Linked DNA regions of Homo sapiens: region 2 is linked to region 1. The links come from fine-mapping of genetic effects on gene expression. A gene starts in region 1. The other region holds a variant in brackets. All regions are shown on one strand. Distances are from middle to middle.

Region 1 (5,392 bases):
GAATCTGCAGAATTTAGTAAGGAGGTGGCAGTGTTTTTCTCTAGTGTGACTAGGAGGTAAATATAAGCTGCTTGCTGGTTCACTCACCCCTGTGTAACCATGGTAGGAATATAACCAGCTCTCCTGTGAGTCTCTTACTTCTGATGGCTTTGCAAATTATTAGGGCAACCTGCAGCAGGCCAGTTTAGCAGGGGCTTTGGGGCTTTCTTTTAGGAGGAATTTATCCCAAGAGATCTAAGCCAGGGTAATTTCATGTGAACTCACTCTTGCCCCACCCCCCACCCTAACTTTTTAGATGCACACTTCATTATGAATGGAGTTTGAGGTTCTGCTCATCTGTAGCACTTCTATTTACTATCATAGTGGTTTCAAAAGTAATGTATAAAGAGTGTCTTAGTCCATTTGGTCTGCTATAACAGAAATAATATAAGCTGGATGGCTTATAAACAGAAATTTACTTCTCATAGTTCTAGAGGCTGGATGTCTAAGATCAGGGTGCTGGCATGGTTGGGTTCTAGTGAGGACTTTCTTTCAGGTTGTGGCTGGCCATCATCCCCCTGTAACTTCACATGGCAGAGAGAGTGCCAGGCAGCTCTCTGGGGCCTCTTTCATAAGTGTACTAATCCCATTCGTGAGGGCTCCACCCTTATGACCCAATCACTTTCCACACATCGGGGGGTAGGACTTCAACATATAAATTTTGGGGGGACACATTCAGCTCAGATAGTAATGATTTTTCAGTCTAATAATCCCTAAGGATATTGAGATGTGTATACATAGGAACCCTCATTCTCTGTTAGTGAAACATAAAATAGTGTAAGGATTTTGACTGGCAACTTGACAATATCTATCAATTTTCAAAATGTGCATATATCTTCTGCCTCAGTATTTCTATTTCTAGAAATTTACCTTACAGATACATTTCATATAAGTATACAAAGGTAATGTACAGGGATGCTTACTGTGTGTTTTGTTTCGCATTGTTTTGCTTTATTTTGTAATAGCAAAAACCTCGAAACAACCTAGATGTCCATTAATAATGATTAAACTATTATACTCTATCCAATCAATAGAATTATTTGTGGAAATTAGAGTAGGATATGTTTATGTGATGTTTCATAAAAATGTCTATTGCATATTAAGTATATCGATTTATGTCAATATCTATATTGAAAATATCTGAAACTTAAAAATGACTAAGAAGGTCAATGCTCATTTTTTACTTTATATAATTTTGTACTCTATGTTTTTAAAGTATGGGCCTGTATTATTTTTTAATTCAACAACACATTTTAAAGCATGTAATGACTAGTAAGTCACAATTCTAGTTTGCAGCTACCAAGTGAGTGATCTCATATTACATAAATATCCTTTGGTCATAAGACCTGTGAGAACATACAAGATGAACAGGTATAATCAGTTAAGATGATAAAATTCTGTTAGATTTTATTTACTACCATGTGAATCATGGAGGGGGAAAAGGTACATGTATTTGAAATATGAGATTACTTTCTCAAACTCCTGGCCTCAGACAATCTGCCCGCCTCGGCCTCCCAAAGTGTTGGGATTACAGGCGTGAGCCACCACGCCCAGCGAGATTACTTTCTAATGTTTAACTTAAAAAAGAAAAAATATTACAATATGTTTAATCTCAAATCCATATCAAGATATAGGTGACTCACAGGGTTTTGCCTGAATACAGGAGCAACCCAGAGAAAGAGCAGTTCTCTGTCACATAAGAGCCTGTGATTTCTGTCGCTGTGTGTAAGGACAGACAGACAGACAGATAGAATTAGATTTTAAATTAGAAAAAATACTTCAGGAGCAAAGAAAGTGCAAGAAAGACATCAGGCAAGTTTTAAGAAAATGGTTAGATAATTTTTATGAAGGAAATGTCTTACGTTCGGATTTGCCAAATAGGGCATTATTTTCTCCTGATAAGTTACTGATTTCCATGTTATCTGCTCTTGCTGTTCAGAAATTGAGCCTGTTTGTGTCCGCATTCACACGTTGCTTCTGGGAGCCAGGAGTCATCTGAGTTAATAGAAAAATCACTAACTCGGTTACATATGAGAGAGGTTCTGTATTCCTAGCAGCTTGCCTTATCTAAGGAGGGAGAAGGTGCTAAATAGGATTTTGGTATACCCTCTTGGTTTAGTAACAGAAAAATGATGGGGTCTAATCTTTCTAATTACACCCTGTGGATATCTTATTTAGTGCCATTGTCAAATATTTTCACCTTTAACTTCACTCATCACATTTTTAAAAATTGCTTTTGTCAACTTGATGTTTACTGGGTCTTATTCCTCAGTTTCTTTCACACTAGCACCAGTAACTTACCTGTAGCTCACCTGGTGAACCTTACCAGAGTGAGTACATTTACCACCATGACTGGACAAATGACATGAAGAAAGCAGTCACGGAAGGGTTAAAGCCTCTCAAAGTCATGCTTATTTTCTACTAAATTCTTTTGCATGAATATGACATTGAATGGGGCCTCAGTAAATGGGAAATTCAACCTAAAATTGAACTGCACAGGCTGGAAGTTAGGTAAAATTTGATTCCATTTGAATTGTTCTAAGCAAGCAATTTGTTACCCTTTATCCTTTAGTGGAATTGATGAACAGGTGGTTTTCAGAAGATCACTTGGTAAATTTAGCTTCTGAAATTTGAGCAACTCAAGATCTGATTGGTTGCTCTTGCCACATGATAATTCGGAGCCCAGGCATCACGCTGGCTTTTGCCTGGGGTTCTCAGGAGGGGAGAGTTGGGAGAGGCTTTGCTGCTGAGGAAATTTATTTGGTAGATTGAAGGTAAGGCCAGTTTATGACTTTTTCTGTAATACTCTTTCAGGAGATGCTCCACAACTTCCCTCGAAGTATTTTTCAAAGGTTTGGGCCATAACTGAGGAAATTAGTGGTAGAAATATGGCTAGGAGAGTTTAACCCCATTGCCCTACTAAGGCCCTACTAATATCTGCTATGTACCGTGTGTGATTAGAGTCAAGTCCTTTGCTAACCAATTTATTGCTTGACTGAATTGGCTCTCTTGTCTAACATTTTTTTGCCTTTGATATTTTTCTCTAAATATATTAGTGTGAAAAAGAAGATACGCTGCTCTACGTTCCTATATTTATCCTGTTCTACTGGGCTTCATTTGCCTGAGGAGTGGCAGTTTCGCTAGCTTAACAAAACCAGCCACTGCAGGGTATTGGTTTACATGGCAAACATCTTTGGATGAAGGGACAGCTGTTCCAACTCATCATCCACTTCATATCAAGAGTCTTACTCTCTGGCGTCAAACTGTAGAGGCCTTGAGAGATCCTTTCGCTGTTTTCTGCATTAGAAGCTTAGGCTAAGGACTGACAATCCTATATGTACCTCAATCAATGCTTTACAACTTTGTTATTTTTCAGGTTTGAACGAGAGCTACAGAAACGAAAGAAAAAGTCTGTATAAGCCAATGGTGTTCGGGAAGAAAATAACCCCATTGCCTTGAGGTTTCTTTTTTTCTTTTAAAATTTATTGACAGATGTATTTTTATGGGTTCCAATTTGAAGCCTAAGATATATTGCAAACAGTGGATCAGGGCAGTATGGAAAACTAAGTCAGCCCTCTTAGAATTTTGGTGCTGGGGGATAAATTTCAGCTTCTTCTGAAACCCAAGCTGACCTTTCACTAAAATTTTTGCTGGAAAATGTCTTTTCTCTAAGTGTTTGGAAGTTTAAATTCTCTGTTCCCTGAGTCCAAACTCTCTCACTTCCTTACCTCAATTTCGTTTTACAATTTTAACTAAACTGATTATGTAGAAGTAGCAATTCCCAACACTGAAGGAATAAAGAGAAAGAAATTTGAAGCTTCTGCTGTTTATACTTGTATTTTAAATGTCTTCTCTCCTTTAGCCTGCAACAATATATGAATTTGTACAATAGTTTAGCTTCAAATTCTATTTTTATAATGTCATAAGATAATTTCTGTGCTGGGAATAGACTCTAATATGTTTTCATTTGTATGGAATATGAAAAGTTTGTAGGTGCCACTACTACTCTGGAAAAATGGCAGATGACGAAGACTATGAGGAGGTGGTGGAGGTAAGATTTAAAAAAAAAACACTGACAGCAAACTATTTTATGTAGTGACAATCAAAGCTGTGTAGGTGAATTAATCATTCGAAAAATACATTGTCTATTATAACTTCACAAAGAGTCATCATTTAAAGCATAAGAAAGGAATATTTTATGTTCAGTTTCACTATAATTATGTGGGATTTAGAATTGACAGGAAATATCACTGTTTCCCACTTTTGCTTTTCTTTAAGCTCTCAAAAAACCAAGTTGGAGTAAAGGCAGGTTTTAATTCGTCTTCTAAAACTGCTTTCTTCCCCACTTCCCAACCCCGATGTTCAAAGGGACAGAGACGAAGAGAAAGTTCTGAAAATGGAACTCTGTCTCTTAGTATCTGTATAGCAATAGAAGAAAAGATCTACTCCTTATTCTTTGCTTCAACTAGCTAATCATCTATAGGGTAACATGGGTTAGATATTCAGAATAATCATATGTATGAAATTATATGCAGATGTGAGACTTTATACATAATACATACACATGTGCACAGACACACACATACAAGCAAATATAAATAAAGGCATGAAGGTCACAGCGATTGTTGGAGCCACACCTTCCTACCAACTTCATTATATTTACCCAAGTCAACAAGACTAGCTTTTGCTTTTGAATTTTGAATAAGAACAAAGACTATAGTGGGTATCTTGAAAATTTTCCTTCCAATTATTAGTGGACATCTAACACATTTTACAAAGCTGTTAATCATTTATTTTATATTTATTTTACATCCTTTTGTTTTTATCATCTTACGGTTTTTCCTCACCGGCTCTTGCCTTTAGCTTCACATTCTAGAAATAAAATCTAAAGGCTTGGAACTATAATGCACATAAATACAGTGCCATGAATCTGAATGTGCTTAATAATTACCAATTAATGATGATGATCTAAACACATGAAAATCTCCAAATGCCTAAGGCACTTGGAGGCAGTTTTGAAAATCTGTGCTTTTTAATAAGACTGAAATTAACTGTAAGAGCTACCCAGAACCAAATTTTAGGTGGCAGTGCCAAAATTTCTCTTTGGAAAATTATTTTAGTGACCAGTCTATATTTAGATGAAGAAAATTTTATTTATTCTACAAATAAAATAGCTTTTATTACTGAAGGATATGAGGGAAAAAATAGAATGAATCTCGTACAATGTAACACTCAGCCTCTCTGGCTTAAATGCTGATACCACATCTTTCATGCTGATATTATCACTAGTGTGCATTTTACTTATGTACCTAAGGGTCAGAAATATCACTGTCAAACACTAATACAATTATAA
Region 2 (5,392 bases), 56 kb before region 1:
GTAATTTTACTGTAGTTAACATTTGGATTTATTTTTCATAGAATGAATTCTCACAAGTCCAATCGCTGTGTCAAAGCATATGGCCTTTTAAAAGGCTTTGGTAGCCTGTTGCCTAATTGTCTTCCGAAAAGATTCCCCACATCCTGGTCAATTCTTCAGCATATACACGGCCATCTCTATATTAAGACACTTTATATTAAGATTTGTAAACCTGTTGACTACTGTCACAGGCCACCACCACTCTGGGCATCTTCAGGTCATGCTACATGTTCACCAGTCCTTCCAGCAGTGGGCAGTGCAAAGCTTCCCTCCGCCCACAAGGTTTCTGTGATCTTTAGCCTTTATTGTGCAGTTTACTTGTTAACCGGCTTATAATGTATTCAGCCTATGCTAATCATTGACTCCTTTTGGGAAGGGTAGAAGGTAAAAGATGTATACAATCTCTCAGCTGACCTTTTTTTAATGTTGGGGAAGAATAATGAACAACTTTTATTATCTACCATAGACGGCCAGTCTTCTGCTTCTAGGATGCTCTCCCACCAATGTGTCCATCTATGCTGTCAGCCCTAAATGCCAGTCCTGTGTAGGAAGTCCTGTGTTCATTCAGAAAAGTCACCCAGTGTCCATCCATTTATGTCCATCATATTAAAAACAGTTGAGTTATATGATAAAACATGCTACCATTAAATATTTTAACAGATTTAAATAATATGAGGAAATTATTAATGGTTGTGACATGTTAAACAGGATAAACAATTTTTTTATAATATAAACTTTTACATCTATCATCTGAATTATGCGAGAACAAAAAACATAGAAAAAAGATAGGAAAGTACCTTGGGAAGCTGAGGCCGGAGGACTGCTTGAGCCCAGGAACTCAAGATCAGCCTGGGCAACATGGCGAAACCCTGTCTCTACAAAATGTTTTTTAAATCTAGCCAGACATGGTGACAGGTACCTTATAGTCCCAGCTGCTCAGGAGGCTAAGGTGAGAGCATCACTTGAGCCCAGGAGTTCAAGGCTGCGGCGAGCTGTGTTTGCACTCCAGCCTAGGTGTCAGAGTGAGACTATGTCTTTAAAAAAAAAAAAAAGAAGAAAGAAATGTATTATAACATTAGGAGTTGTAGGCGGCAACATTACAACCAGTATTTTTCTGATTACGATTTTGTATGTTACAGATATTCTATATTGAGCGCATTATACCAATAATCAGAAAACATTGCTGAATCATTTTGTCTTTAAAGAATCATCTAATAGGGATGGGAAGGAATACAAAAGTTGTATTAAGTAAATGGGATGAAGCTCTCAGTTCAGAGATCAAGATGATTGGTAAGTGGAATACTATGCAGCCATAAAAAGGAACAAAATAATATCCTTTGCAATGTGGCTGGAGGTTGTTATCCTAAGCGAATTAACATAGAAACAGAAAACCAAATACCACATGTTCTGACTTATAAGTGGGAGCTAAACATTGGGTACTCATGAACATAAAGATGGCAGCAATATTGGGGACTATTAGAGGGGTAAGGGAAAGGGGGCCAAAGGTTGAAAAGCTTTATTGTACTATGCTCAGTGCCTCGGTGATGGGATCATTTATGCCCCATACCTCAGCTTCATGCAATACACTCAGGTAACAACCTGCACATAAATCCCCTGAAATTAAAATAAAAGTTGAAATTAAAAAACAACAACAACAACAACAACAAAAGGTGATTGGTAAAAATTCACTGATGCAATGCCATTTGCAACCTTCAGTGCAAGTCTGATTTTGACAGAGTTCTTACCAATTATTGCAGATGTAAAGAGATTACCTTTTTAGCTTATGCCTTGATATTATGTGTTTTGCTTTAGATGGTTTGGTGGTTGGTTGGTTTGTGGGATAGGTTCTTTTTGGCTGTGTAGTAATGACATCAAATGCCCGCAGAGAATTAGTTGTAAATGGTAATGGTCTTTTTAAATGGTTTAACTGCTGTACTCAAAATACTCTTCAACCTGATCTGGTGTCCTAAAAGTTTAGTACTTCTAATAAGATCTAACATGTGGTTGCATTTGTTATAAATGCCAAAGTTATATTTAAAAACACCCAAAGGGGCTGGGTGTGGTGGCTCACACCTGTAATGTCAGCACTTTGGGAGGCCCAGGCAGGAGGAGAACCTGAGCCCAAGAGTTTGAGACCAGCCTGGGCAACATAGTGAGACCCGCATCTCTACAAAAAACAAACAAAAAAAATAGGCATGGTGGCATGTGCCTGTTGTCTCAGCTACTTGGGAGGCTGAGGTGGGAAGATCACTTGATCTTGGGAGGTTGAGGCTACAGTGAGCCATGATTGCAACATGCAACACTGCATTCCAGCCCAGGGGACCATGAGACTATCTCAAACAAACAAACAAACAGACAAACAAAAACCCACTCCAAATGTAAAGTGAATAGTTCACATCAGGTGTACTGGAGGCTATATGAAGAGAGACAGTGATAGCAAGAGTCAACAGTCCTTATAGACTAAAGTGAGGTGGCAGTAGTAGTAGGCATTGGGGAACCACTGAAGGTTTGCTTGTTTTATTTTGTTTTAAGACAGGATCTTGCTGTGTTTCCCAGGCTGGAGTGCAGTAGCATGATCATGGCTCTTTGCATCCTTGACCTTCTGGGCTCAAGTGATCATCACACCTCAGCCTCCCAAGTAGCTGGGACTACAGGCACATACCACCACGCCTGGCTAATTTTTTTTTTTTTTTCTTAGAGATGTGGTCTTGCTATGTTGCCCAAGATGGTCTCAAACTCTTAGACTCAAATGATCCTCTCACCTGGGCCTCCGAAAGTGCTGGGATTACAGGCATGAGTCACTGCACCTGGCCTGGGAATAACAGTTTAAGGCCAGCCTCTTAAAATGAAAGTTATTGTGGCAACTTCTAAAAGATGGGTTGAAAAGAGAGGAAACTGGGGATAACATCATAAATAGATTATTATATTATCCCTGGTGAAAGAAAATGAAGGCCTGAAACAAGGCAGAGAAGGCAAAGATAAACTTGATATCTAATGGAATATGGGTAAGTAACCATATAAGTTATCAGCCAAAATGGGACATGCTTAAGAGTCAAAGAAGGCACTATTAATAATTACTCCAGCATATCAAAATACCACATTATACCCCATAAATACATACAATTTGTCAACTAAAAATAATTTTTTTTTTAATTCATGAAAAAGGGGGATAAGAAGAAGAAAAACATTCCTGCAGGACT[G/A]GTCTGGGCAGAAGAGGAGTTGTGGTAACTAGATATGAGGAGAAAGAGAGGAAGGAGGCACAGAGCAGTTGGAGCTTGCTGCCTGGAAGAATGACGGTATGATAAAGAGATGGGATGATGTGAAATAATTCACATTGTTAATTATGAAGTGTGTTTTGAATCACCTCAGTGTTACCCAGAAACGACACTCGGTTATCATGTTCAGATAGGGGACAATGTGTTTTTGCAGTGATAGCAGTGGAGGGGAAGGGTTGTCAGCTTAAGGGGCAGTTGGTCATTCTGTCATCAAATGAATTAGTAGCAAGACTTGACCAGCATTTGTGAATAATGAAGCTTTTCTTGCTGACAAACTGCTGATGTTTACATTGGGCCATTATAATAGGCAATTTAATGTCATTAATGACCTTTATATAAAAAATAACTCGTGAATGAATGAATGTAGTGAACATTAAGTACTGCTAATAGAAAAAAAAAGGGCAAGGCTTCTTTGCCAACTTGGCAGAATGATCATCAGTATTTCTGCCTGTTCTTTGCCTCAGGTACACACATATTTATTTATTTATTTATTTATTTATTTATTTATTTATTTATTTATTTTAGTTTTAGAGACAAGGTCTGACTGTGTTGCCCAGGCTGGACTTCAACTCCTCAGTACAAGTGATCCTCCTGCCTGAGCCTCCTGAATAGCTGGGACTACAGGCCTGCACCACCATACCCTGCTCTAGTTACACAAATCTTAAAATGATGCTGTTATGTTAATTCAATTAAGAAAGTAAACTAGTTCTATGATCCAAGCACATAGTTGTGACTCAATTCATGTTGTTGTTTTTAATCCTGAAATGATATTGTAAAATAAGAGCTTTGCCTTAAAGTTTTTGTTACTCAGTTTTTACATTTGAGGTAAGAAGGCAAGTGGCAGGGAAGAATGATTAGCAATAAAGCTTTTTAAAAGTTCTTCAGAAACAGTAGACAATTGGTTGAGTCAAATTGACCTATAATGACTATTCCCAGGAATTTCCTAGTTCTTATTCCTTTGGAAGGAATTGTAACTACCTTATGCCATGTAAAGAATGCTGCTATTTTACGTTTATTACAAAGATGTGCCTACAGATAAGAATCAAACTGGAGAACTTTAAAAATGTTTTAACTTTACCTGATCTTTTTCTTAGAAAGCTAACTGTAAGTAGGATATGGTGCCAAGAAAAATCATCAGCCTGATACTGTGAAAAAAAGACACCCTATTAATATGCCCACAACATTATCAGCAAGCTAAGTAACATCCCTGGACCTTAGTTTCATTATATTTTTAACTAAGTATGTATCAGAGCCCTTAACACAAGCCCAATATATTTTGGAACCTCAATAAATAGTGGTTTTGCTGATTGTCTTTTTAACAATTTCTAAAATATTGAATACTGGTTATTATAATTAAATGTATTCTAAACATCTATTCTTTCTGTCTCATGCCTTGATCTAGCCTGTTCCTTCCACCTAGAATGCCTTTTCCTTCCTTTTCTCACATAGCAATCTTTGACATATCCTTGAAGACTGAGCTCTCCCATCAGCCTGGGAGGCCTGGCCTGATCTGGAAGACGGTTCAGCACGTCTTTCTCTGTTGCCATAGTGCGGGATTTTTGTCTATTTTCAGCAGGTCGTTCCAGACTGCAAGCCTCTGGAGGGCAGTGACTCGATCCCATTCAGCTCCATATCCCCACTACCAGCATGGCATGCATTGGGGGTGTCCATACATATACAGAACAGAAACTTTCAGGGTTTGGCCAATTTTACTTTTCCTTAGCATGTATTATCATAAAGTGATGTAAGTACTATATGCCTGGATTTGTCTTATTACTACATCTATTTGTTAGTAAAAGGAGGTTACATGTTGCCTTAGTGGTTTCTTTGCACTTAAATATTTTTTAAATTATTTGGTTCTTGGCTGGGAACTTAGTCCAATATGTCTGCTAAAGTATTTCCCATTTCTTGCCACCTCTACAATAGTGCCATAATTTCCAAGTTGATTTGACATGTATCATCTTTATTCTCACAATCCTGAGAGGTATATAGAGCAAGAATTAAGTTCTACATTTAACAAAAGAGAAAACACACAGAGATTGATTGGCTCTAGGTTATATAGCTAACTGGTAACAAAC

The links.
Region 2: its variant is fine-mapped to the expression of NEB in blood mononuclear cells (TOPMed, PIP 0.98).

The regions. Positions count from the first base shown.
Region 1 is chr2:151,731,819-151,737,210 of GRCh38, reverse strand. It overlaps NEB (nebulin), which reads left to right and starts at 2,735. Exons shown (of 182, transcript NM_001164508.2): 1 at 2,735-2,813; 2 at 3,416-3,499; 3 at 4,026-4,090. The coding sequence starts at 4,055.
Region 2 is chr2:151,787,695-151,793,086 of GRCh38, reverse strand. No RefSeq gene overlaps it. Among named protein-coding and RNA genes, the nearest start is that of ARL5A, 38 kb to the left of the region's middle. The variant G/A (reference allele first, on the strand shown) is at 3,240.